Regions from separate parts of the Homo sapiens genome. Here all the other regions are linked to region 1. Evidence: fine-mapped expression QTL. A gene starts in region 1. Each other region holds a variant in brackets. All regions are shown on one strand. Distances are from middle to middle.

The links.
Region 2: its variant is fine-mapped to the expression of CSF2RB in lymphoblastoid cells (TwinsUK, PIP 0.95).
Region 3: its variant is fine-mapped to the expression of CSF2RB in whole blood (TOPMed, PIP 0.91).
Region 4: its variant is fine-mapped to the expression of CSF2RB in whole blood (INTERVAL, PIP above 0.99).
Region 5: its variant is fine-mapped to the expression of CSF2RB in whole blood (TOPMed, PIP above 0.99).

The regions. Positions count from the first base shown.
Region 1 is chr22:36,911,314-36,916,442 of GRCh38, reverse strand. It overlaps CSF2RB (colony stimulating factor 2 receptor subunit beta), which reads right to left and starts at 2,815. Exons shown (of 14, transcript NM_000395.3): 1 at 2,766-2,815. RefSeq lists an enhancer at 4,281-4,982.
Region 2 is chr22:36,865,812-36,870,811 of GRCh38, reverse strand. It overlaps NCF4 (neutrophil cytosolic factor 4), which reads right to left. Exons shown (of 10, transcript NM_000631.5): 4 at 3,350-3,420; 5 at 270-397. It overlaps NCF4-AS1 (NCF4 antisense RNA 1), which reads left to right and starts at 369. Exons shown (of 2, transcript NR_147197.1): 1 at 369-719. The variant A/G (reference allele first, on the strand shown) is at 3,008.
Region 3 is chr22:36,952,404-36,957,532 of GRCh38, reverse strand. It overlaps LOC124900478 (a long non-coding RNA gene), which reads left to right and starts at 2,873. Exons shown (of 3, transcript XR_007068091.1): 1 at 2,873-3,885. It also overlaps the pseudogene CSF2RBP1. The variant G/A (reference allele first, on the strand shown) is at 2,693.
Region 4 is chr22:36,944,679-36,949,807 of GRCh38, reverse strand. It overlaps LOC124900478 (a long non-coding RNA gene), which reads left to right. Exons shown (of 3, transcript XR_007068091.1): 3 at 1-1,563. It also overlaps the pseudogene LOC124905162. Among named protein-coding and RNA genes, the nearest start is that of LL22NC01-81G9.3, 18 kb to the left of the region's middle. The variant G/T (reference allele first, on the strand shown) is at 2,850.
Region 5 is chr22:36,873,459-36,878,587 of GRCh38, reverse strand. NCF4 (neutrophil cytosolic factor 4) reads right to left here. Exons shown (of 10, transcript NM_000631.5): 8 at 2,805-2,935; 9 at 2,494-2,559; 10 at 573-960. The coding sequence ends at 765. Among named protein-coding and RNA genes, the nearest start is that of NCF4-AS1, 5.6 kb to the right of the region's middle. The variant G/T (reference allele first, on the strand shown) is at 3,199.

The sequences.
Region 1 (5,129 bases):
AGCCTAGGATGTAATAGGGGCACTTCAAATCATTGAAGAGAGGAGAAATCACACACTCATAATTAGCAATGTTAAGACAATTAGATGGTAATTATTTTTAAAAGTTACTTTACACATTACTCACTTCTCTAAATTCTAGGTGGGCTAAAAATCTCAAAGTCAAAACCAAAATAGTAAAATTATTAAAACTCTTTCTGTAATCTTAGAGGTTTCAAGACACCAAACCAGAAACCATAAAGTAAAAAGAGGTTTACAAGACACCTGTGATCTTAGAGGTTTACAAGACACCAAAATCAGAAACCATAAAGTAAAAAGTAATGACAGGTTTGACTTAACAATGAAAACATTTTTATATGACATAAGACATCTTAAACATGGTAAAGAAAAAGATAAGTCATAACCTGGGAGAATATATTTTCAACATATATAAATGGATTATTAATACACGTAATAAATGAGTCACTCCAAAAGTTAAGATGTAAAAGAGAATTCAACAGGAGATGAACAAAAATTTCTCCACATTCATCATAAATGAAATCCAAAAGGCCAATCCACATATAGAAAATGTACAACTTCACCCATAATCAGGGAAAGAAAAAAATCACGCGACATTGAGAATTTCCATACATAATATTGGACAAAATTAGAAGATTGATAATTTCTCTAAAGGTAAATTGGACCCTTTATGCACTACCTTGGGGACGTCAGCTTAGCTCAGCTACTTTGAGGCTGATTTGACAATACCTATTATAATTTCTAACGCACAACCTCTGCACAGCAATTCTGCATTTAGTAATTTAGGCTACAGAAACACTTTCACAGATGTGGAAAAATTAGAAACAATCTAGGTGTCGATCAACGTGAGATTAGATGAATTGTGGTGTACCCATCCTAATAAATGCCACATATTTCTTAGGGTTACTTAACGAGTTAAATCTGTATGTATTATTGTAGAAATTTGGAAATATTCCAAAATACAATATTAAGTGAAAAAATTAGGAATATATATATATATATATAAATAAAATAATCCCATTTCTGTAAAAAGAAAAACTACCATCCTGGCACAGTGGCTCAAGCCTGTAATCCCAGCATTTTGGGAGGCTGAGACAGGCGGATCATCTGAGGTCAGGAGTTCGAGACCAGCCTGGCCAATATGGTGAAACCCTGTCTCTACTAAAAATACAAAAATTAGCCACGTGTGGTGGCTCATGCCTGTAATCCCGGCTACTCAGGAGGCTGAGGCAGGAGAATCACCTGAACCCGGGAGGCAGAGGTTGCAGTGAGCCAAGATTGCACCACTGCATTCCAGCCTGGGCGACAAGAGTAAAACTCTGTCACAAAAACAAAACAAAACAAAACAAAAAACAAACAGGAAAAGAAAAACTATATGCTTGTATCATGCTTAGAAAATGTTCTGGAAGAATACATGTGGTGAAAAGAATAAGCTATGGAACTAGGGAAAAGAAATTGCTGGGGACTTTGTCTCTTGTGCTACATAATTCTAGATTATTCTAATTTTCATGAAGGTAGGTTTCTGTGTAGTTGCTTGTTTAGCATTAAATACATTCCTTATACAACTCATGAATTATCCTGTGGTGTTGGTATATCTGTATACTGGAACAATATAAATAAAACTGCTGGATGAAAAAAAGAGTGACCAAAAGCTAATAGGAAATGTTTACTCATTATAAAATGATTACAAAGCAGGAAAGATGATAGAAAAAAATTAGAATTGGGCTGTACAAAAATATAACAGCAGGGTTTTTGAAGACTAAAAATTGCACATATGCAGCTTGTCGCTAGCACCTGTCTGACAAGGTCCCAGTGAAACACCTGCCCTTTCATTCTCAGGGCCAGTACACACACCTGCACACACCCTGAAGCAGGCACCCCAGATACCCACCCACCCAGCCAGCATACTTGGGTACAGAACACACACACCTGGGCCCCAACCCAAATCAGCAACCCAAATCAGCAGGGCAGAGTGTCATAACTAAAAAGACAGACAGACAGAGAGAGAGACTGAGAGAGAGAGAGAGAGAGAGAGAGATTGCTGGATAGTGCCTGGTATGTCTCTGGGCAAAGTGCTGGGCTCTTTCTCAAGTTCAAAGTGAGCTTCTCAAGCCACACCGCACCCAGCTCTGGGCCTCAGCGCAGCAAGCTTCCAGGTTTCACCCTCTGCCTCTTAGTCTCTCTGCACTCCTGCATCCCCAGACATCCGCACATGCACATACACACACAGGCACACACACAAATGCACACACGGGCAAACACACGAGCATGCGTTCTCTCTCTTTCTAAACCAAGATGTCAGGGACTATCCATGCTCCCCATTCCACAGATGAGGAGACAGAAGCCCAGGGTGGACAGGGGGTGCTCTCACTACCACCAGCATCTTAGTGACAAAGCGAAGACAGACTATAGGTGCCTGACTCCCAGGCCTGAGCTCTCTTCACCCCACTAGGCGTCCTTCCCACCAGGACCAACCAGATCCCGCTAGCGAGGCTGAGTCCTCCCCAGAGCTCTCCTACAACACCCAAGCAGCTTGGCACCCCTGGCTGCCTCCCCATCCACTGGCCGCCCTAGGAGTCTGGGCTCAGGTCATCCTAAGAGGCCAAGCCCTAACTCCTCCAAGTCCCCAGGGCACAGCTACCCACAGGACGCCCCCCAGGCTCCCCCTGTCCTTTTTCATCCTGGACTCCCCACATTCCCCCCTGCTCTGACCCCACCCCTCAGCCCTGCTCCTGGACGCCGGGCCATACCTCTGTGTGGTGGGAGAGACCAGTCTTCTTCTGGAGCCTCTAGGCAGAGTGAGCCTCCCACGTTTCCTATTTATGTTGATGTCATCAGGAAACAGAGAAGCAGAAAGAGGAAGCAGTGCCGGCCCAGGCCTACTTTGCTAATAGTGCACGTGACTTTTCTTACTTCCAGAAAGCCTCCTACTCCAATTTACCTTCCTATAAACTCCTAGGCCTCCTTCAAGCCTCAGCTGACGCAGGGCCTCCTCCATGCAGCCTTCCCTGACTGCTTGATGGGGATGCAGGTGGAAGTGGCTGCAATAACCATAGCTGGTTTGAGCCCAGAGCCAGACAGATCTGTGTTGGACTTCCAAGTCCACTGCTTCTTAAAGCGTGTCCTTGTGCAAATCATCTGCGTGTTACTTCCCCAAGCCTCGGGACATCCATCTGTCTGTTACTTTTGCAGAAGCATCTACAAACCTGGAAGGACTGTTGAGGGAATCCAGTGAGATTCTGTGCAGGAAGACCTTAGCTCAGAGCTGGCCACAGGAGAACCCCCTACAAGTGGTAGCTGGTGGCATGTTGATTTCCCCGATGTCCTCTTTGCCCTGCCGCCCCACCCCACCATGTGTCATATGGTCATGTGTGTTCATGGCTGTCTTTCTTCTGACACTATCTTCAGTGCTGGCTTGTGTCCGGCTTGCACTTCCCTCCCAAATACCTAGCACATGGCCTGGTACAGAGGAGAAATTGCACCTTTGACTGTGTGCAAATGAATAGATGAATGAATGAATGAATGAATGAATGAATGAATGAATGAGTGGCTCCCTGAGCACAGCAGGGCCAGCAGAATTAAGGTCAGGTGAGTGAGGCAGTCTCTCGTGCTCAAAATTTAAACAGGCATTTAAAAATTCAGTAATTGTTGTAAGTAATATTTTAATGCAATATGGTTTAAAAAAATCCCAACTGATGCAGAAACTATTCACGGTGAACCAAATATGAAAAGTTTGAATAAAGACAAGATGAATCACAGTGCCAAGACACAACAAAACGCAGTCATATTTCTCCTACATGGGGCTGCCTCCCAGGAGAAAGGGCAGCAGGCAGGAATGAGGGGAATGGAGGGCAAGAATGAGGGGAATGGAGGAAATGGAGGGGCAGGAACCTGCCTCGAAGCCACTGGAATTCTGGCCTGATTGTTGTTCTTTGCTTTCCTCCTACCAGGAAGGGCAGGGTTGGCCAGGAAGAGCTGGCAGGGCCTCACCCTAGCAGAGAAAGCCCAGGGTAGAGGAAGGCATGTGTGGTTCTCTCAGGCACTCCGGTCAGTGTGAGGTCCCTGCCTGGCATGGAAAAACCCTGCAGGGGCTTCTCCAGGGCTGGAGAGGATGGAATTAAAGTGACGTCCCGGGCTCTCTTTTCTCCCAGGTGTCCCCACTCTGCCTGTCTTTGCTGAGGTCCTCTGTGGGACTGGGAGGCTGCGGGCCTGGATGCCCTCAGGAGCACAGAGGATGCTGTCTGGTGGAGAAACGAAGAACCCGAGACTCTGAGTCAAAATCACTCCGGACACCAGACCCAAAATGTGAAGGAGCTTTAGGAACACCTCAGCCAATTCACTTGACTGACCCTTTCCTTTTAAAAGTCATCATAGAGCAGCAGGGGATAAAAATCTACATTTGAATGAGTCTAACAGAGTTCTCTCAATAAGTATTAAAAGTTCTAAGCGAGAAGAATCACACCGTCAGGAATTCATTGAATGTTTTCGTTTGTTTGTTTGTTTTTTCCTTCAGTGGTATGTAAAATACCGTGTCTTGCAATTGACGATCTTTTAGAGACTAAGAAACCCAAGAAAATGTTGGCAAGAACGTAGTACTCATAATGACCAGGGCTTGAGCATTTACGCTGTGAGCAGACCTTCGGCTGGGGGCTTCTCCATCTCTTCCCAATAACCTTTATGTAGCTGTTACTGTCTTCACCTTACAGATGAAGAAATTGAGGCATGAAAAGGAAGATAACTTGTTGAAAGTAGTAACTCGTATATGTTAACATTGCATTTTTTTCCATTTCCATTTTTATTCTGAAACTATTTCAAAATACAGAGCGTTAAAGGAATGATACAAAGAACTCTCACATACCCTTCATGTGGAAACCCCCTTTGAGTTTCGCTAAGCTTCTCAATAATGGTTTTGTAACAAGAAAATCCATCCGGGACTTTGCATTCTCTCTAAATGCATGGCTCTTAGTTGCCATGTCTTTCGGGCCTCCAGTTTGAAACAGATGCCTTGTTTTTTCCTCGACATCTCGAAGACTGCAGGTTGGTTGTTTTGAATAATGTCCCTCGATTTGGCTCTGTCTGATGATTAGAACTGGGTTATGCTTTTTTGGCCAAAA
Region 2 (5,000 bases), 46 kb after region 1:
CCAGTAGTTGCTGTGGCACCAAACTCTCTGGAGTCAATATCCCAGTCCTCGTCTTCCAATCCTTATTATCACATTGAAAGGCACACACCCTCTGTCCCTCCAAGCCTGAACATGACTTTCTAAACCCATCTAATAAATCAAATCATCCTGGAGTGTCCAGGGATATGGCTGATCTGTATTTTCCTTCTCTCCTTTCAGGGAAAAGAGATGCTTTTCCAGCAGGGACCCAGGGCTCTGGCCATGTGGAAGCCCAGGGGCTGGTCACTTACACTTTCCGGGTGCGCGGGCGGAGCCGGCGGAGTGCCTGGGGCACCTGCTCTGAGTCATAGGGCGACTGGTAAAAGAAGATCCGGACGTCCTCATCCATCAGCACCCAGACCGGCAGGCTGAGCAGGCTCTGTGTGGGTGAGACAGCAGAACCGGTGGGGTAGTCAGCAGAAAGATCTGGACACCCCAGCCTAGATGTCCCGTCCCCGAGCCCTGACATCAGCCCTCCTCTCTTTACTAATGCATGATGCCTGATAACAGAAATGCGTTGTTTAAAAGAATAAGAAAACTCAGCATGCTGAAGGTAACACTTCACAAGCTCTGCTCCTGGGTCCAAGGTCAGGAGAGGGACCAGGGGCTTGAGAAGAGTCCATTTGGAAAAGACTTAAAGTTCTCCAGAAACAGCAGTAATGGTGATGACAACTAACATGACCCGGCGGTGACTTTACCAGGTGGGTATCACATGCGCGCCCTTGCTCCATCTCATGACATCCCTTGAGTTAGGATCAGAGAGGTGAAGGGATATGCTCAAGGCCACAAAGCCTAGCAAGGGACAGAGCTGGGGCACCCAGAGCCATCTGCCACTAAAGGCTACCCAAAGCTTAAGGTGAGACAACAGTTGGCGGGGGTGGGGGGCTCCCAAAATAACCCAAATTAACAACAGTTGGTGGCATTATAGCCTACAAAATGCTTCCTGATACTTTATCTCATATCATAGTTGAGGAAACTGATGCTTGGAGAGGGAAAGTACCTGGCCCAGAGGAGCCGAGCTAAGTGACAGGGCCCGGACTTGAGCCCTAGTGTCCTTGTTTCATCCAAGCTGGTTACACCCACCACGATGCAAAGACTTTGAAGCTGTGAGGACGCGAGCACCCAGAGCCTGGCGGGGTCATCTCACCAAACTCCAAGCGCACAGGTCTGGGGACACTGAGGGTTGGCTTTGGGTGCTGAGGCTCCAGAGGCACCCAGAGCCCTGCAGAGGATCCCATGGGGGCAGCAGGATGAGGTGGGGTCGGGGAACTTTGTCCGAGAGGAACTGGGGATGCAGAGCCCGGAAAAGGCTGTCATATGGGGACAGCCTGGGAGGTGTTTAAGGAGCCAGGGGCTCCTGGGATCGAATCCCAGCTCTGCCTGTCACCAGCTGGGTGGCTTTGGGCAAACCTGGCTCCAGATGGTCATTAATAAAATGGGGACAATAATAGCCTCTCCCTCGTGGGATTGTGTGAGAATTAAATGAGTAAATACATGCAGAATCCTTAGAACAACACCAGGCATATACCAGGTGCCCATCAAAGTTAGATGTCATCATTGTTACTGTGATTTTCATTACAACGAGGCACAGTGGGTAAGAGCTCAAACCCTGGAGTCACAGAGATGTGAATTCAAATCTCATCCCACCTACCTAACTGCTCTGTCACACTTAACTCACAAGTTATTGAGGGGATTAAATAAGATTATTCATTTATCAATAAACGTGTATCAAGAGTCTCCTGGTTGCCAGTCAAAGCTCTTCACGCAGTTCCAGGCAGTTGTCATTATCATGTGATTCACATTCTTCATGAGGGCGGGGTGAGACCAGTGGGTAGGACTTACAGAGAGTTGGGCTTTTCTCATAGCTGCCCAACAATGGGACAGGCAGCCTGGGTCAGGGCGGAGTGGTAGTGAGCTCCCCATCTCTGAGGGTATGCAAGCACAGGATGGGGTGGCCATGGCAGAGATTCCTGCCCTGAATGATCTCTGGCTTCCAGGAACCCAATTGGACACAAAGAGGCAGAGATGGATCCTCTGGGCTGCTGGTTGCTAAGACCAGGTGTGGAATGAGGAGCCCCAGTTCCCCAGCCTCGCCTCCTGCCTTCTCTTCCTCCTTCCCTCCCTCCCTCCCTTCACAGCCCACTCCCCTATTCTAGCCCAGGGGGAGAAGGGTGGAGCCTCAGCCACCCTGAAGGAGCAGCTGGAGCCCACCCAGCTCCCCTCCCTCCCTCTTCCCTGCTCAGAGCCCAGGATTCCTGCAGCTACCTGCTCTCTCCTCCTTCCTCCCACCTCCTCTGCCCTCCATCTGCTCCTTCCCTCCATCAGGAGTCAAGATCTCTCACATTCTGGAAGCAGGTTCACAGTTTACAAAGCACTTTCTCATCCTGTTCTCGACAGATCCCAACTTCACTCCTGTGATACTAGAGGGCACTGCCCCATTTCACAAGTGTGAAAACCAAGGCCTAGAGAGGATGGGCAACTCACCCCAAATCACCCAGCCAGTCAGTGTCAGAGTCAAGACTAAAGGATCCTAGCCCAGCGCTCTCCAGCTGTGAGGATGCCGCTGGGCTGGGAGGAGGGCTTCGCTTGCCAGCTTCCTGAGGTCACTATCAGGTCTCTAGCGACGGTGCACTCACTGCCACCTCATGAGGAACACTGCCCCTTTCCTGGATGGCTGTGGCTGGTGGAAGTCCTTTCCTGACCACCTTGGCCTCTGCCTTTAAGATGCTCCTTCCTCTACGCTCCCATCTCATAGAGATGCAGAGTTTGCAAGTCGGAGAATACACAAGGGCCCCCAGCCAAGACCCATGAGTGTAGCTAAAATCCAGCCCATGTTCACGTAAGGGAGTGAGTTGTCCCAGAGGAGGCCTACTCTAGTTTGCACAAAGATGCTATATGAGCAACCTGCGGCCTGCTTGGCCACACCCCCATGATGGAGGCACACATATGTCTCCGTGTGATCTTATGATCCACCTGTTGGCATTCCCAT[A/G]GGACAGTGGGTACCTTGGGGGCAGACACTGGATGGAATTCACCTTTGTATTTTAACTCCTGGCATAGACATTCACCTGTGGGGCTTGGAGCATTAAATGAAGACTTGTCAATTCCTAGTGTGGCTCTTTTACCTTCTCCGTTGCTCCTGCTCCTATCTCTGGAACCCTAAGGACGCATCCTGTTTTACTCCCCAGACCAGGCCTTTAGGGATTGAAGATGGGGCCATCAGAGCCAGAGAGCCAGCCCCAGTTCCCAAAGCCATACCCAGGGATGGTACGTGGGCTCCCCCACCAATACTGCATGCCCTTCCACGTGCCAAGGTGGCAAGGCCCACTGGTACCTTCATGTAGGCGTTGAGGGCAGGTATCCGCATCTCGGCGATCTCCTGTTTCACACCCACGTAGACTTTGGCTGAGAAGAGACAAAGAGCTGTCCTAGGAGCCTGGCCCAACATGGCCCCGGGGCTCAGGGCTGCCCCTACAGGCCAGGAACCCTGGCCAGAGCCCCTTCCCGATGGCTCAGCATTCTTCCCTGTTATCTTTTCACAGCACTGAAGTGGCCACTCTGGCACCATCCAACTTTCATCCTCTCAGTTGTGCTATCACCAGCTGATATTTTTCTTGTCTTACTTTTTTATTTACTGCCTGTTCATCCAAGCGCACACACACACACACACACACACACACACACACGACTCTTAGTTCTAAGAGAGCAGGATTTTCACCTGCTTGGCTCACAGCTGTACCCCCATCACCCAGGACAGTGGCAACACCGGCTGCACATTCAAGCTACCCAAGGAGCTTGTAAATATCTCACTGTGTAGCACTTGCCCCAGAGCAATTAAATCAGAATCTCCGGGGGCAGGACTCAGGAACCAGGATTCTTTCCATCTCTCAAGGCACGTCCACATACCACCAAAGTTAAGAACCATGGGTCTAGAATCATGCCCAGATGAATGAGCATTTGTTAAGTGGATGAATGAACAATTCCTCAAGCTCAAGGCAGATGTTCTGGAGGAAAAGGAAATATGACGGGCTACCAAGAGACAAATGTCCCCTCCAGGTGCCTTCATGTGGGCGCACTGGTGGAACCATTCACCAAGAGAACCCCTACGAGGAAGCAAGTCTGAAACCTGCCTGGCTCCTGGTGTCCAGGAGATGGACAGAGGTGATGGCGGCGGCGGTAGGAGGGTCTGGGCTAGAGCTAGACATTGGGAGTTAGGAGCAAAAACGTGACAATTAAGTCCCAGACATGGGTCAGTTTGCCAGGGTGAGTGTTTGGAATGAGAAGACAAGGCAGGGGAGAGAGGATGTCTGCTCAGAGGATCCCCACCTTCCAAGGAGCAGCAGAGAAGGTTGATTCTGTAACAGAGAAGCTGAAGGAGTCTCTAGTAAGCTAGGAAGGGGATTGGGAGACACTGGTGCCTCAGGAGGTTGGAGAAAGCTTAACAGAGGAAGGAGTGGGGGTGTGAAGATGAGGCTTGGCACTGGCCATGGAAGCCAGAATTGATGGGTCATGGCCCACCTCACCGAGAGGAATTTCAGTGGAGTAGTCAGAGCTAAACCAAGCTGAGGAGTTAAGGAGAGGATGGCCATGCCAAGGTGAGACAGTGCGTGAATTTGATGCCAAAGGAAGAAGAAAGAGAACTTTGGGGGCCCTGGGGGCACGGAGGCTCAGGGAGGCTTGTAAGAATGCTGTTTCATGGCTCAGGATTGTTTAAAGACAGAAGAGGGTTGAGGCTGTGGAGACGCTTAGCAGAGGGAGTTGGTATATCAAGAGGAAGATGAATATACAAGGAAAAGGAGGGGTAGATTGTCAGGAGAGAGCCCCAAAAGAGAGAGGAGGGAAAATGATGGAGCCTGAGAGGGGAGGCTGGCTTAGAGTAGGCAAGACTCCTAGGGGGAGCTTCAAGTTCCTTGGTGGGGCTGGATGAGAAGGAGCGGGGTCATATGCTGAGACAGAGAGAGACAGAAACAGAGACAGAAAAAACA
Region 3 (5,129 bases), 41 kb before region 1:
CAGCCAGGCATGGTGGCTCATGCCTGTAATCCCAGCACTTTGGGAGGCGGAGGCAGGCAGATCATCTGAGGCTAGGAGTTTGAGACCAGCCTGGCCAACATGGTGAAACCCCGTCTCTACTGAAAATAGAAATATTAGCCAGGTGTGGTGGTGTGCGCCTGTAATCCCAGCTACTTGGGAGGCTGAGGCAGGAGAATAGCTTGAACCAGGGAGGTGGATGTTGCAGTGAGCTGAGATCGTGCCACTGCACTCCAACCTGGCAACAGAGCGAGACTCCGTCTCAAAAATAATAATAAAAACATAAAAAAAAACTAAAATAAATGTGTGTGGCAGCTGCCTCTGCACTAGTGCTCTCTCTCTCTCTCTCTCTCTCTCTCTCTCACTTGTACCAGCTTTCACTGTGTGACGTGCCTTCTCTCTTCACCTTCTGCCATGATTGTAAGCTTCCTGAGGCCTCCCCAAGAAACGAAGCAGATGCCGGTGCCATGCTTCCTGTACAGCCTGCAGAGCTGTAAGCTAATTAAACCTCTTTTCTTTATAAATTACCCAGTCTAAGGCATTCATTGATTTACAGCAATATGAGAATGACCTAATATGGAAAATATCCTACTCTCAGTGCCAATTTTCTGTATTAGGTCATTTTCATGCTGTCATAAAGAAACACCCAGGACCAGGTAATTTATAAAGAAAAGAGGTTTAATTGGCTCACAGTTCTGCAGGCTGTACAGGAAGCATGGTGCTGGCATCTGCTCAGCTTTTGGGGAGGCCTCAGGAAGCTTCCAATTGTGGCAGAAGGTGAAGGGAGAGCAGGCACGTCACAATGAAAGCAGGAACGAGAGAAAGAGAGAGAGAGATCAGCGTAGGGGTAGGTACCACACACTTTTAAATGACCAGATCTCCTGTGAACTCAGAGTGAGAGCTCACTCATCCCCAAGGGGATGGCCCAAGCCATTCACGAGGGATCCCCCAACCATGATCCAAACACCTCCACCAGGCCCCACCCCCAACATCGGGGATTACATTTCAACATGAGATTTGGATGGGGACAAAAATCCAAACCATATCAATCAGTTTGATCTTTTAAGGTTTGTTTTTAAGCTTCCTTAGAGGACTTTTATTATTATTATTATTATTATTATTATTATTATTATTATTGAGATGGAGTCTTACTTTGTTGCCCAGGCTGGAGCGCAGTGGTGCAATCTCTGCTTACTGCAATCTCCGCCTCCTGGATTCATGCAATTCTCCTGCCTCAGTCTCCCAAATAGCTGGGATTAGAGGCACCTGCCACCACGCCTAGCTAATTTTTGTATTTTTAGTAGAGATGGGGTTTCACCACGTTGGCCAGGCTGGTCTCGAACTCCTGACCTCAAGTGATCCACCCGCCTTGACCTCTCAAAGTGCTGGGATTACAGGCATGAGCCACCATGCTGGCCTAGAGCAGTTTTAGAATGGCCCTCTCCTGGGCTGGTTTAGTGCTGGCACTAAGGTGTTTTTCTTCTTGGTTCTCTACTGAATGTGTGAGGTGTTCAGTAAGAATTCCTATTCTGGCTTGTTGGAACTTGAACATCTCCCAGACCTTGGTGAGTTCTGGAAATTGTTCAGATACATCTCTCTGTGTACTATTTACACAGTCTAGTGGAGCTCCACCCCACACATGCATGGTTTAGTGTGCAGCAGTACATGCAAGAGGATCTCTGTGTAGATTTGCTGGGTCTCTTTCTCTGTGCAGCTCTTTCTTCTCTTGTTTTCTACACCAAATTCCAGCTTCTTTTGCCTCTTCAGACTCAGACCCCTATCGCCCAACACAGCAAGACTGCCATGGTCATGTTGGAGTTCTTTTACCTACGTCACAGTCAAGAAAGTGGTAGAAAGGTAGAAAAAGGTAGGCACGGTGGTTTATGCTTGTAATTCCAGCACTTTGGGAGGCCGAGGTGGGAGGATCACCTGAGGTCAGGAGTTCATGACTAGCCTGACCAACATGAAGAAACCCCCGTCTCAACTAAAAATACAAAATTAGTTGGGTGTGGTGGCGAGTGCCTGTAATTCCAGTTACTCGGGAAGCTGAGGCTGGAGAATCACTTGAACCCGGGAGGCGGAGGTTGCGGTGAGCCGAGATCACGCCGCTGCACTCCAGCCTGGACAACAAGAGCGAAACTCCCTCTCAGAAAAAAAAAAAAAAAAAGAAAAAGAAAAGAAAGGTAGGATGATCATAGGACCTACCGTGTTTGTTTTCACTCTCTGAGCGATCATATAGAAGGACTCCTCTTTTCTAACAGCTGAAAACAGATTTTTAATATCGTTTGTCCAGTTTTATACTTCTAAAGTAGAAGGCTATACCTGGTCCTAGTTACTCCATTATGGCCAGAAGCAGAAGCCTCTTCTCCCTCTGCCCATGCCTGTCTTTTGCCCCTCCTCCTCCACTTGGAGCCATTTGGCCCATTTGGGTGTTGACTTTGATGCAAGTCAGGGGTGCCTGCATTGGCGTCTGTGCATGTGGTTGTGGGTGTGTGTGTTTGTATAGTGCCTGGGTATACGTGAGTCCTTAAGGTGGAAGTGGGGCATGGGAATGGGGTGCAGGGGAAGTGGGCTGTGGGAATGGGGTCCAGTGGAAGTGGGGTGTAGGAATGGGGTGCAGGGGAAGTGGGGGATGGGAATGGGGTGCAGGGGAAGTGGGGCATGGGAATGGGGT[G/A]CAGGGGAAGTAGAGGTGTGACGGAAGTGGAGAGGTGTGAAATAGCTTCTTGGGAAGGGCAGAGTTCCTCCTTGCTGCTGGGAAGTGTCATTTGGGGTTCTGGCAGCGTTAAGAGCCTCCCCACAACCCCCGCCTCCGATGGTAATCCTGAATTTAAGTGAGACCAGCTGGTGTGGTTTTGTTCAGCTGAGCATGGCCAGGGCAGGAAGACTGAGAGTTCACCATTTTCTGTACCGAGAAGCCCTGCTGCCTCCTCAGGAACTCCATTCCTATCCTGTCCTCCTTCCTGGCTCGTTCCCAGCATCCTCAAGGTCTTGTCAGCGCCCTCGTAGGGTGGTCAGGTCCCATCAGGGTTGTCTGAGCATGTGTGTGCAGGTATGTGTAGGTGTGTATGTGGGTGTGTGAGTGGGTGGAGGCTTGCGTGTTTCATGGTTTCAGAAGTGTTGAGAAAGAAGAAAAGAAGACCTCTGTCTTTTCTTCTGACATCACAAAGGGCAAGAAACTAAGAAATGCCTCAGGCTCCTGCAGAGAAGAAGGGATGGGCAGTAACAGCTTGGGGCAGGTGAGGAAGGATGGTGGAGTGTTTGGTGTTGAGTGAGGTGGCCCAAAGGGAGTCTGTGCATCCTCAAGACCTGGGAGGAGACAGGCTCCATCTGTGGTGGGTGGATCCACAAAGCTTATCTGCCAAAATCACTTGAAGAGCTTAACGCAGCCCACTTGGGCATCAACCCAGTAGCACCCAATACAAACACACAGAATCTACACCAGCACTGCGGGGAAGGGTGAGAGTGGCAGAGGAGGAGATCCACACTAGGTGGAGAAGGCGCAGGACCAGGCTCCCCGTACCCCCAACATGGCCTTCTCCCTCCTCATCGGCCATATCCCTGGGAAGACGAGAGGGGTGGATGGGCCTTATCCTGGCCCACATCTCCTTTCTCAAGACCTGGGGTAGGATGGCAATTCATGGATGGAGGAATAACAAGACCTGGTGAGATCAGCTTGGCCTGGCTCCCAGCTGGGCAGGAACACAGGACTCCAGGGCATGGAAGACCCCACCCCAGCCCATGGCCAGCATCCACCTGTGCCAGCACCTGCCTGTCCAGAGCTGACCAGGAAAATGGTGCTGGCCTGGGAGCTGCTCCTCATGGCCCTGCTGGCCCTGTGCTGGGGACTTAGCCTGGCAGGGGCAGAAGGTGAGTTCCGTGGCTCCCACCCCTTCCCTGCCCCCTCCTCACTGCTGCACCCTGGAGGAGGCCCGCACCATACCCCCAGGACCCTGCCCACCCACCCTCCTCCTGCTCCCCTTGCTTCGTCTCTTCCCCGGCCTTCCCTGGGCTTCCTTCACTTCCCTCCTCCTGCACATTCCTGCTCATCCTGTCCTGGAAAGTCCAGCTGAGTGTGTCTGGGTTCCCAGCCCATATTTCTCAGCACGGCACTCCAGGCCCCCAGGCTCCAGGGTGGCTGCTCTGACCGTTTCCCTTCTCCTCCTTCCCCAGCAGACACTCGCTGCACCTCAGTGGTTCCACCTCCAGACCTTTGCTCCAGCAGCGTCCTGGCTTGGGGTTCATCTCAAGGCTGGGTTGATGCCTGGGGGTCTGGGGGGCAGGGCCTGTCGCTGCTGCGTGTCTCCATTCTGCAGGGATTGCACGGTGCTTCTGTCAGGAGAGGAGGGTCCACAGGCAGAAGCTCACCCTGGCAGACCCCCTTCCCAACCCAGGGCACCTCTGCCCCAGATCAGCTGGGGGTGGTGGTGATAAGGGACCCTGCAGGGGAGAGAGGTGACCCCTTCCTGCCCCTCTTGTCAGAAACCGTCCTGCTGCAGACCCTGCGCTGCTACAGTGACTATACCAGCCACATCACCTGCGGGTGGGCAGACACCCAGGATGCCCAGCGGCTCGTCAACGTGACCCTCATTCGCCGGGTGAATGAGTCTGTGACGTTGGGTGCAGGGGCCACGGGTAGGGGCTACGGTGTCCCCTCTGCCTGGCGTGGGATGGTGGTGTAGAGAGGGATGTGTCAGGTCAGCCTCGGGGTGGGAGTAGACAGAGGACAGAGGAGGACGGAGGCCCTCCCGGGAGCTCCTGCTCAGCCAGGCACCTGCCAGGCACTACTGTCTGATCTGGGGTTTCTGGGGAGCACGTTCTACACTGATGTCGTTGAGGATGGTGCTGGTAACAATGGTGACAATCTTCTCTTATTTTGTCACAATTTAACACAGTTGCCCCACATGACCTATCTTAGTTCCTCCTCACTGCGAGGTGGGCAGGGCCAGGCCACGACGCCCAGTTCACAGATGGGGAAACTGAGGCCCTGGAGGTGAGGCGCCAGCCCTGGCCACAGATGGGGAGTGGCAGAACAGGCCGTGTGGACGTGTTTGGGAGGGGGCTCCATGCTCTCCCAGGCTCCTCCTCTGCATGTGGGCTGCCACCTCTCCCAC
Region 4 (5,129 bases), 33 kb before region 1:
TTTGCAGTTTCTTATAAAAGTAAACATACTCTAACCATATGATCAGCAATTGTACTCCTTGGTATTTACTCCCATGAGTTGAAAACATATCCACATAAAAACCTGCACATAGATGCTTATAGCAACCTTAACCGACAAAACTTGGAAGCAAAAAAGATGTCCTTCAGTAGGAGAATGGATAAATAAATTATGATACACCCAGACAATGGAATACTATGTAGCACTGAAAAGAAATGAGCTATCAGCCATGAAAGGACACGGAGGAAACTTAGCTGGATATTACTAAATGAAAACAGTGACTCTGAATAGGCTACATACTGTATGATTTCAACTGCATGACATTCTGGAAAAGGCAAAACTATGGAGAGAGAAAAAGGATCAGTGGTTGCCAGAGGGTAGAGTGAGGGAGGGAAGAAAAAGTGGAGCACAGAGGGTTTTTAGGGCAGTGAAACTATTCTGTGCCATGTTATAATGCTGGATACCTGTCAAGATGTATTCATGTAAACTATAGCCCTTGAGTGATAATTATGTATCAACATAGGTTTATCAGTTGTAACAAATGTACCACTGTTGCCATGGATTGAATGTTTATATCCCTTCAAATTAGTGCGTTGAAATCCTTTTTGCTTTTTTTTTTAGTTTCTTTTTTTCTAAGTTCATGTCAGATAGGTAATATGCCCACATGGTAGCTGACAGAGCAGAAGCATCACCATCTTGGACAAGCACTGCCATTCTAAAGTTCCCCTTGATCAAAAATTGCCTAAATCCAAAGGTCATCAGCCTAATGACTAAGGTCAGCATGACCATAAGCCACAAATGACATCTCCGACCAGAAACATTTCAACCATAAGATAAATCCCTCCCTGACCAGAGACAAGCCAGCCCGGAGATAACTTCCCCCCCGGCAGAGAGATGTCAGCCCCAACATAACCTCCCCTTCTGCCAGAGACATTCCAACCCCACCATAAACTTCTCCCCCACACAGAAACATTCCAAGCCTGTGATAAAGCTCTCTCACTCTAAAACCAATATATACTCTTGTTGTTTATGAGCCACCGGTCTATGTTATTTTGGTTATAGCAGCCCAATGGGCTAAGACGATTGTAGTGCAGGCTGTTGATAGTTGCAATAGAGAATCCTCCTGACTGAAATTGGCCAGAAGCCCCTTTCAGGTTTATTCTCCAAAATAAACCTGTTTTTGACTGTTGAGCCCCTTTTCTGGCTTCTTTCCTCTTTCTTTAACTCTTACAGTAACAAGGTTTGAAGGTGGCACATCTCACACATGCATAGGAACACCCAATCATCACGTCTATGAATTACAAAATAATCTGTGTTGAAATCCTACCCCACAAGGTGATGGATTAGGAGATGGGCCTTTTGGAGGTGATTAGTTCATGAGGGCAGAGGCCTTAGGAATGAGATCAGTGCTTTTATAAAAGAGACCTGAGAGACTCCCTCGCCCCTTCGGCCATATGAGGTTACAGTGAGAAAGCCTCACCTATGAGGAAGCAGGCCCTAACCAGACACCAAATCTGCCAGCATGTTGATCTTGAACTTCCCAGCCTCCAGAACTGTGAGAAATAAATTCTTTTGTTTATAAGCCACTGGTCTATGTTGTTTTGGTTATAGCTGCCCAGTGGGCTAAGACGATTGTAGTGTGGGCTGTTGATCGTTGGGGAGGCTGTGCATGTGTGGGGCAGGGATTATATGGGCATTCTGAACCGCCCACTCAATTTTGCTGAGAACTTAAAACTGTTCTAAAAAGTAAAGTCTATTAAAAAAATAGACTTGTATTTTATAGTACAAGAGTACCTGTACCCCCACACACTTCCCACTCTGGATATTATCAGTTATTTTCCCAGTAATATTTACCAATGTGGTGAGTAAAAGAACTACATCTCATTTTAATTTGAATATACAGCCACACCTCATCTTATTGCACTTTGTTTTATTGTGCTTTGCAGATACCGTGTTTTATACAAATTGAATGTTTGTGGCAGCCATGCTTTTGGCAAGTCTACCATCACCATTTTTCCAACAGCATGTGCTCACTTCATGCCTCTGTTATAGGACCAATGGGTTCATATGCCCACTGTGCAGTAACAGACCCATTACATAGTGACAGCAGGGTTTGCAGCAGAGAAAGTTTAATGATTGCAGAGTGCTGAGTGACGAGATGGGAGGAGGCCCTCCCGTTTATCTCACCAAGGAGCTTTGGTCTGGGGTTTTTAAGGGGATTATAGAGGGTGAGAGACTCCCTCCATAATTGGAAAATTGGGGTTGTTGATTGGTCGGGGGGAAGGGGGGATGAAATCATCACGATATGGAAACTGCATTCTTTGGTGAGTCAGCCCATTGTGGGGTCCTTCAGACCAGCTGGGTCGGTAGTTTCATCAGTGTATGGGACCTGAAGGACTATCTCACAGGGAAAACTAAACATTTTATAATGTTCACGTTGTTATCTACGGAGCAGTTAAGGGGAACCGTGATCTTGTAACAGGGTCTATGTGATTTTAGTACGACAGGCACCAGACAGCTGTGAGGACGCAGGCTGGAGAGCAGGCCGACCTCATGATGGAGGCCAAATGTGCTGCAAGCGTGGGTGACTTTTATTTCTCCCCCTTCCTTCTTCCCTGATTCATTTCATAAAGTTTATAGGGGCAGTTTCATCTCTGTGTCACCTTTTGGTAATTCTTGCAATATTTCAAACTTTTTCATGATTATTGTCTCTGTCATGGTGGTCTGAGATCTGTGATGTTATTACTGCAATTGTTTTGGGATGCCATGATCTGTCATAGAAGACAGTAAACTTAATCAACAAATGTTCTGTGTGCTCTGACTGCTCCACC[G/T]ACGGGCCGTTCTCTTATCTCTCACCCTACAGTGAGAAGCCTTCATCTATGAGGAAGCAGGCCCTAACTAGACACCTAATCTAGCCTCCCTCATCCCAGAGACCCAACAATAAATAAATTAGGCCAGTTAATAACCCTACAATGGCCTCTAAGCTTTCAAGTAAAAGGAAGAGTTGCACACATCTCTTACTTTAAATCAAAAGCTAGAAATGATTAAGCTTCACTGAAAGCCTAGATAGCCTGAAAACTTGGCCTCTTGGGAAAATAGTCAAGTTATGAATACAAAAGAAAAATTCTTGCAGGAACTTAAAAATACTACTTCAGTGAACTCATGAATGAGAAAAGAAAACAGTCTTATTGCTGATATGGAGAAATTTTAGTGGTTTGGATAGAAGACCAAGCCAGCCACAACATTCCCTTAAGCCAAAGCTTCATCCAGAGCAAGGCCTTAATGCTCCTCAATTCCCTGAAGGCTGAGAGAGGTGAGGAAGCTGCAAAAGAAAAGTTGGAAGCTAGCAGAGATTAGTTCGTGAGGTTTAAGGAAAGAAACCATCTCTGTAACATAAAAGAACAAAGTGAAGCAGCAAGTGCTGATGGAGAAGCTACACAAAGTTATCCAGAATATCCAGCTAGGATGATTAGTGAAGGTGGCTGCACTAAACACAGATACTCAATGTAGACAAAATAGCCTTTTTATCGGAAGAAGATGCCTTTTATTTGAAGCTGCAATGCTTCAAAGCACAGGCAGAATCTCTCGTTAGGGGCTAATGCCACTGGTAACTTTAAATTGAAACCAATGCTCATTTACAATTCCAAAGAACCCTAAGCCCCTTAAGTATTGATACAGTTGGCCAGGTGCGTTGGCTCACGCCTGTCATCCCAGCACTTTGGGAGGCCGAGGCAGGTGGATCACGAGTTCAGGAGATCGAGACCATCCTGGCTAACACGGTGAAACCCCGTCTCTATTAAAAATACAAAACATTAGCTGGGCGTGGTGGTGGGCACCTGTAGTCCCAGCTACTCGGGAGGCTGAGGCAGGAGAATGGGGTGAACCCAGGAGGTGGAGCTTGCAGTGAGCCGAGATCGTGGCACTGGGTGACAGAGTGAGACTCCATCTCAAAAAAAAAAAAAAAAAAAGATACAGTTTGGCTCTGTGTCCCGACCCAAATCTCATCTTGAATTATACTCCCATAATTCCCATGTGTTGTGGGAGGGACCTAGTGGGAGATAATCGAATCATGGGGACAGTTTCCTCCATACTATTCTCTTGGTAGTGAATAAGTCTCACAAGATCTGATGGTTTTATCAGGGGTTTCTGCTTTTGCGCCTTCCTCATTCTCTCTTTGCCTGCTGCCAACCATGTAAGATGGGACTTGCTCCTCCTTGCCCTCCACCATGATTGTGAGGCTTCCCCAGCCACGTGGAACTGCAAGTCCAATTAAACCTCTTTCTTTTGTAAATTGCCCAGACTTGGGTATGTCTTTATCAGCAGCATGAAAACAGACTAATACAAAAATTATGCTAAATCTACTCTGCCTGTGTTTTGGAAATGGATCAGTAAAGGCTGACAGCACATCTGTTTACAGCATGGTTTAGGAATATTTTAAGTTCACTGTTGAGATATAATGCTCAGAAAATATATTTCTTTCAATATATTACTGCTTATTGCCAATGTACCTGGTCACCCAAGAGCTCTGATGAAGATACACAAGATTAATGTCGTTTTCATGTCTGTGAACATAACAGTTATTATGCAGCCCTTGGATCAAGGAGAAATTCCTGCTTTCAAGACTTGTTATTTAAGAAACACATTTCCTAAGGCTATAGCTGTCATAGACAGTGATTCTTCTGATGGATCTGAGCCAAGTAAATTGAAAACCTTCTAGAAAGGGTTCACTACTCTAGATATCATTCAGAACATTTGCGATTCATGGAAGGAGGTCAAAACATCAACACTAACAGGGTTTGGAAGATGTCAATTACAACTCTTATGGATGACTTTGAGGGATTCAAGACTTCAGGGGAGGAAGGAACTGCAGATGTAGTGGAAATAGAAAGAAAACTAGAATTAGAAGTACGGCCTGAAGATGTGACTGAATTGCTGCAATCTCATGATAAAACTTGAACAGGTGAGGAGCTGCTTCTTACAGAGGAGCAAAGAAAGTGGTTTCTTGAGATAGAATCTACTCCTGGTAAAGATGCTGTGAACATGTTGAAATAACAACAAAGGATGAAGAATATTAAATCAACTTAGTTGACAAAGCAGCAGCAGGGTTTAAG
Region 5 (5,129 bases), 38 kb after region 1:
AAGTATTTCTCATCAGTTAAACTGCTGTTTCCCTGGGGAGAGGGTCCACCAAGCTCCTCACACCACCATTGTGGGAGTCACACCTGTTTAATTTTTGGTAGATTAGGATAGAAGGAGATTCAGCTCAGAGAAGGAGATCCCGTTGCTTTGTGTCCCCCTCCTCCTGGATGAGACTAGAGTCCTCCCCCTGTGTCTACTTACAGTGGAGACAACCAACCCCGAGACCTGCCTTCCTCCTCCACAGAGCAGCAGAGACAGGAAGGCAGAGGAGAGCTTCTGACCCTCATCACACAGCCGAGGACTTGGCATTGGTGGAACCCCAGAGGGCACCCAGAGCAGATCACTTCTGTGGGGCAGGTGGCCAATCCCAGGAAAAGGGGAGCAGTGGGAGGGAGAAAGGGTATGGCTTGGGGACCCTCGGGTTTCCCCCCAACACAGGGACAGAGCAAGGAAATGGGGTGGCAGGACAGGGGTCTCAGAGCCAGGGCCCCTGCCAGATATAAATGACGCCCTGTGGATGCTCATTAAATGGTATTTTACTCCCCATGAAAGACACTCTTTCCCGCAGCCTGCCCCTTTCAGATGGAATGGTTTATTTAAATCAGATGTAAATAGTAGAAAGAGACAGATTACAAGCCCCACGGGTCCATTAGCCTCAAAGACAGGAAGTCTGCCCATCCTCCCAGGTTTTCCTGGTCCCAATCTCCTCTGAGAGCTGAAGGTTTTTGCTGGTGTCCCCTCACTGCTCCAGGGACACCGTCAGCTCATGGCATCGTGTTGTAGACCCTGTAGTTGTCCTTCTGCGTGATGTGCAGCTTCCAGGGGAAGAGGCGCTTCTGGGAGGGGAGGCCACGAGCCTGCCGCACCATGAGCGCTACGTCCTCATCCGACAGCAGCCGAACCAGATCCCCCTCAGCGTCCCGGTAATTCAGAGCTATGTCCTCTCTCTGGAACTCCCGCCTGCATGGGAAAAGTCAGGGATAATCAAAGGGCCTAAGCGTAAGGTAGGGGTAGGGAGAGGGGGTGAAAAGGGTTTTATGTCCTGAAGCCAGGAGTAAGAAAAAGTCAGAGCCTGATACAAGCCCGTGTCATCCAAGTAATCTAACCTCCCATTGTACAGATGGGGATATCGAGGCCTAAAAGGGAGAAGAGGCTGGGTGCGGTGGCTCACGCTTATAATTCCAGCATTTTGGGAGGCCGAGGCAGGCAGATTACCTGAGGTTAGGAGTTCAAGACCAGCCTGGCCAACATGGTGAAACCCTGTCTCTACTAAAAATACAAAAATTAGCTGGGCGAGGTAGTATGCACCTGTGATCCCAGCCACTCAGGAGGCTGAGGCAGGAGAATCACTTGAACACAGTAGGCAGAGGTTGCAGTGAGCTGAGATTGCACCACTGCACTCCAGCCTGGGCAACAGAGTGAGACTCCATCTCAAAAAAAAAAAGGAGAAGGAGAAGAGACTTTCACGGAAATTAGTGGCACAGCCTGAAATGTCTCGTGTATAAATGTGCTAAAGGATTAAGAGTTGTGAAGAAGAGTGGGTTTGACTGGGCACAGAGTGGGGCTGTATAAAGCCTCAGAGAGACACCTGTGTGAGGCTATTGAGGAGAACCTTGTAAGGACAGGAACTGTCTGGCCTGGGTGCGGGAAGATGCGCATCCTTCTACTTGGCTGGTGTACGTAGAAATTGATCTGAGCTTTCTACCAGTAATTTCACAGTGTGGGCCAGAAGCCTATGAGACTTGCAAATGCTTTAATCCCCAAATCCACTTCTTGAAAATCATTCAAAGGAAATGATCAGATAAGTCATCAAATAGGTTAACTAAGATGGTCTGTACAATGTTGTTTAGAGTAGTAAAAAAGCAGAAGAAATCCTAAGAGGCCAGCAAAAGCGCATGGCCATGTTAATGATGTAGCCACTGAAAGGTTTTGTGCAGCCAAAGTGACTTTTGTGTGTGCATGTGTGTGTGGGGTGTAAGTACTGAAGAAATCTGAGTGTACGTCACATAACGAGGGGAGTAAAAATATGAGGTGATTTCACTTCTTTGTATCTTTCTGACATGGTTACTGACATTTCTTTTTTAATATATAATGAGTTGGTACAAGTTTTATAGTCAGAAATGTAGCAATGCGGTTACCATTCTGTAAAATAACTGTCCAGCAATGTCCTGGACCTGGGGGGGTAGTGAGTCCCTGAGAGTGGATGGTTCAAGTCCAAGGCTTTTAGCCAGAGAGACTTTAGCTCCAGCTGCAGATCCGGATCTAAACCCACAACCTGCGTGAGCTCAACCAGTTCCCCTAACCTCTCTGCAGCTTCCCCGCTCATCTCTAAAGTGGGGAGATGCTGCCTAACCTGCAGGGCTGGGCTGCGGATAAAAAGAGAAGACAAAGTACACGCAAAACCCCAGCACCTTAATACTAGTGCTTAACATTTCTCCCTGCGCTCTCTTCTCCAGAGTATCTAACTCCCCAGCCCCATTCCCAGCCCCTCACCTTGTGAGCTCCAGCAGGTCTTTCAATAGGGGAGTGCTGCTGAGATCTTCCTCCACCGCGATGTCCCTAAGGGGGTGACAGGCTGGAGTAAGGAGGCATCAGGCTGGAAGTGGGGTGTGGGGTGGGGGAAAGGGGAATGAGGCTGGCCAGGCCACCCTGGACGTTGATGGCTTGTTACAGCATTGTGGCTCATCTGGGAGCCACTGGGGGCTTTGGAGTGGGAGAGGGACCCATGAGAAGGTGATGTGAGGGGCAGTGGTCGTAGGGATGGCAGGAAGGCTGGACAGGCCCCTCCCTCCCAGGCCACAGACTTGATGGTGCTGATGGTGTCTTCGTAGTAGTAGCAACGCAGCCAGTTGGTGGGGTCGTCCTCCTCAGGGAAGTCTTTGAGGATCTTCACGAAGGAGAGAGGGAAGATGCCCGTGGCTCCCCGGACAGTGCCCTGCAGAGGAAGAGAAGGGATGCCATGCTGGTGAGAGGAGAGGCAGCAGAGCCACGCCTCAGAGCCCTCAGCCCCGTTCTAGTGATGGGGAAAGGCAGATGAGGTCCGGGTCTTCTTCTGTAGAGGGAGGAGGGAAAGCGAGGAAGTTCGCTGAGCTGGTCACTTCTAAGAAGGCTTATATTTGGGTTTTACAATATGCCAGAATCTGGATTTATATAGAAAGCTGCTTTTATCTCACTCATTCACTTATTCATTCAACAAAG[G/T]CTTCTTGAGAACCAGCCACGTGACAGGCTCTGGGCTCTCAAAATAGATAAAAGTCCTTGGGCCGGGCGCAGTAGCTCACACCTGTAATCCTAGCACTTTGGGAGGCCGAAGCTGGTGAATCACTTGAGATCAGTAGTTCGAGACCAGCCTGGCCAACTTGGTGAAACCCTGTCTCTACTAAACATATACAAATTAGCCAAGCGTGTTGGTGCGGGCCTGTAATCCCAGCTACTCGGGAGGCGGAAGCAGGAGAATCACTTGAACCTGGCAGGTGGAGGTTGCAGTGAGCCGAGATCACGCCATTGCACTCCAGCCTGGGCAACCAGAGTGAAACTCTGTCTCAAAGAAAAAATAATAATAAAAAAATAATAATAAGTCCTTGCCCCCACGGAGTTTCCAGTATGATGGGGAATGACACGCTGTGCGCGCTGTGAACAATGACCTATCCAGTGAGTCAGATGGCAGCAGGTGTTACAGAGGAAAATAGAACAGGGGAGGAAGAGGATGAGGGGTGAGGAAGGGCCTGCTGCTGATCCCGCTCACTCACTCATTCATTCATCAGATACAACTGTGCCTCTACTCTAGACCAAGTAGCCAGAAATCAGACCCAGACCCGGCCATGGCCTGGGCTTTGGGCACGTGTTCTGTTCATCTTCACAACGACCCTATGGAACATGGATTATTTACATGCCATTTTACAAACATATTAACCAAGGCTCAAAGTGGTCCCCTCCCTGCCCCTCTGCCCCCACCTTCAACCTGAGGCCAGAAGTTAGCCAGCATACTGATAAGTAGGACTTTCCGGAAAACAGGAAGGCAATACATGTTTTCTATTTCTGGAAAGTGGCCCAGAGATACTCCTCAGGCCTCTGTAAGAGCCCTGAGTTCCTGAGATGGAGATCTATGATTAGGGTAAAATGGAAACTGCTAAACTGGCTAAACCAGTGGTCACTACTAGCTCCTCTCCAGGGCCTGGACGCTAGGGACCCAACCCAACTCTTAAAGGTCCTGGGACCCCTGGGGGCTGACCCTGCCTCTGGGCCTGTCCCAGAACCTCCTTCAACACTCCCCACAGGAGCACTAAGTCTGAAGACAGGACCTAATACAAAAGGCTGGTCCCAGGCCAAGGCCCAACACAGCCACTTCCCACCTCCACTCACTGAGTCAGAACACAGCCCTTCTGTGGGCCACACAGGGACAAAGCAGTGACTGGGAAAGTCCCTGGCTTTGAAGTTTCATTTAAGTCTCCTAATGACCCTAGTACCTGGCCAGGCGCCGCACACCCAGGCTCTGGGGCGAGCCCTGGCCATCTACCACCTCCTTTACCCTTTCCAGGAAGCCGATGAAGAAACATTTACAGAAAAGGAAACCGCAAGTTTGAGCAAGTTTCCAAAGGTCCACAAAGCTAGTGAAAAACAGAGCTAGGAAATGGCCCAAACAGGCTGACTCTGAGTTCACACTCTTCATCAGCAGCTTTTACTGCTGTGGGCAAGGTATGTACTGTTGTCCCATATTACACAAGTGGTTGCGATTTCACCCCTCAGGAGCAAATATCTGGAGAGCCATGTGATTGGTGCAATTTAGCAGTGCTGCTGGCATCTAGTGGAGAGGCCAGGGATATTGCTGAACAGCCTGCAATGCTCAGGACAACCCCACAAGGGACCATCTGGCCCCAATGTCAATAGTGCCCCTGCTGAGACACCCATTACAGACCAAGAAACTAAACTCAGTAGGTTAACTTACTTGCCCTAAGCAACCCATTTTTCAGGGTCAGAACCAAAGCATGAGCTCCAAGAATGTTCTGCTGCCACCGAACACCTGCCTCCCCAAAGGCTTTGTTCCCGCAGGCTCCCCAACCTGCCTGGATCTCCAGGGCTATCCTCAGATAGCATCTCTTCCCTGAGGCCTTCTGAGACCATCCTCAGTCTCT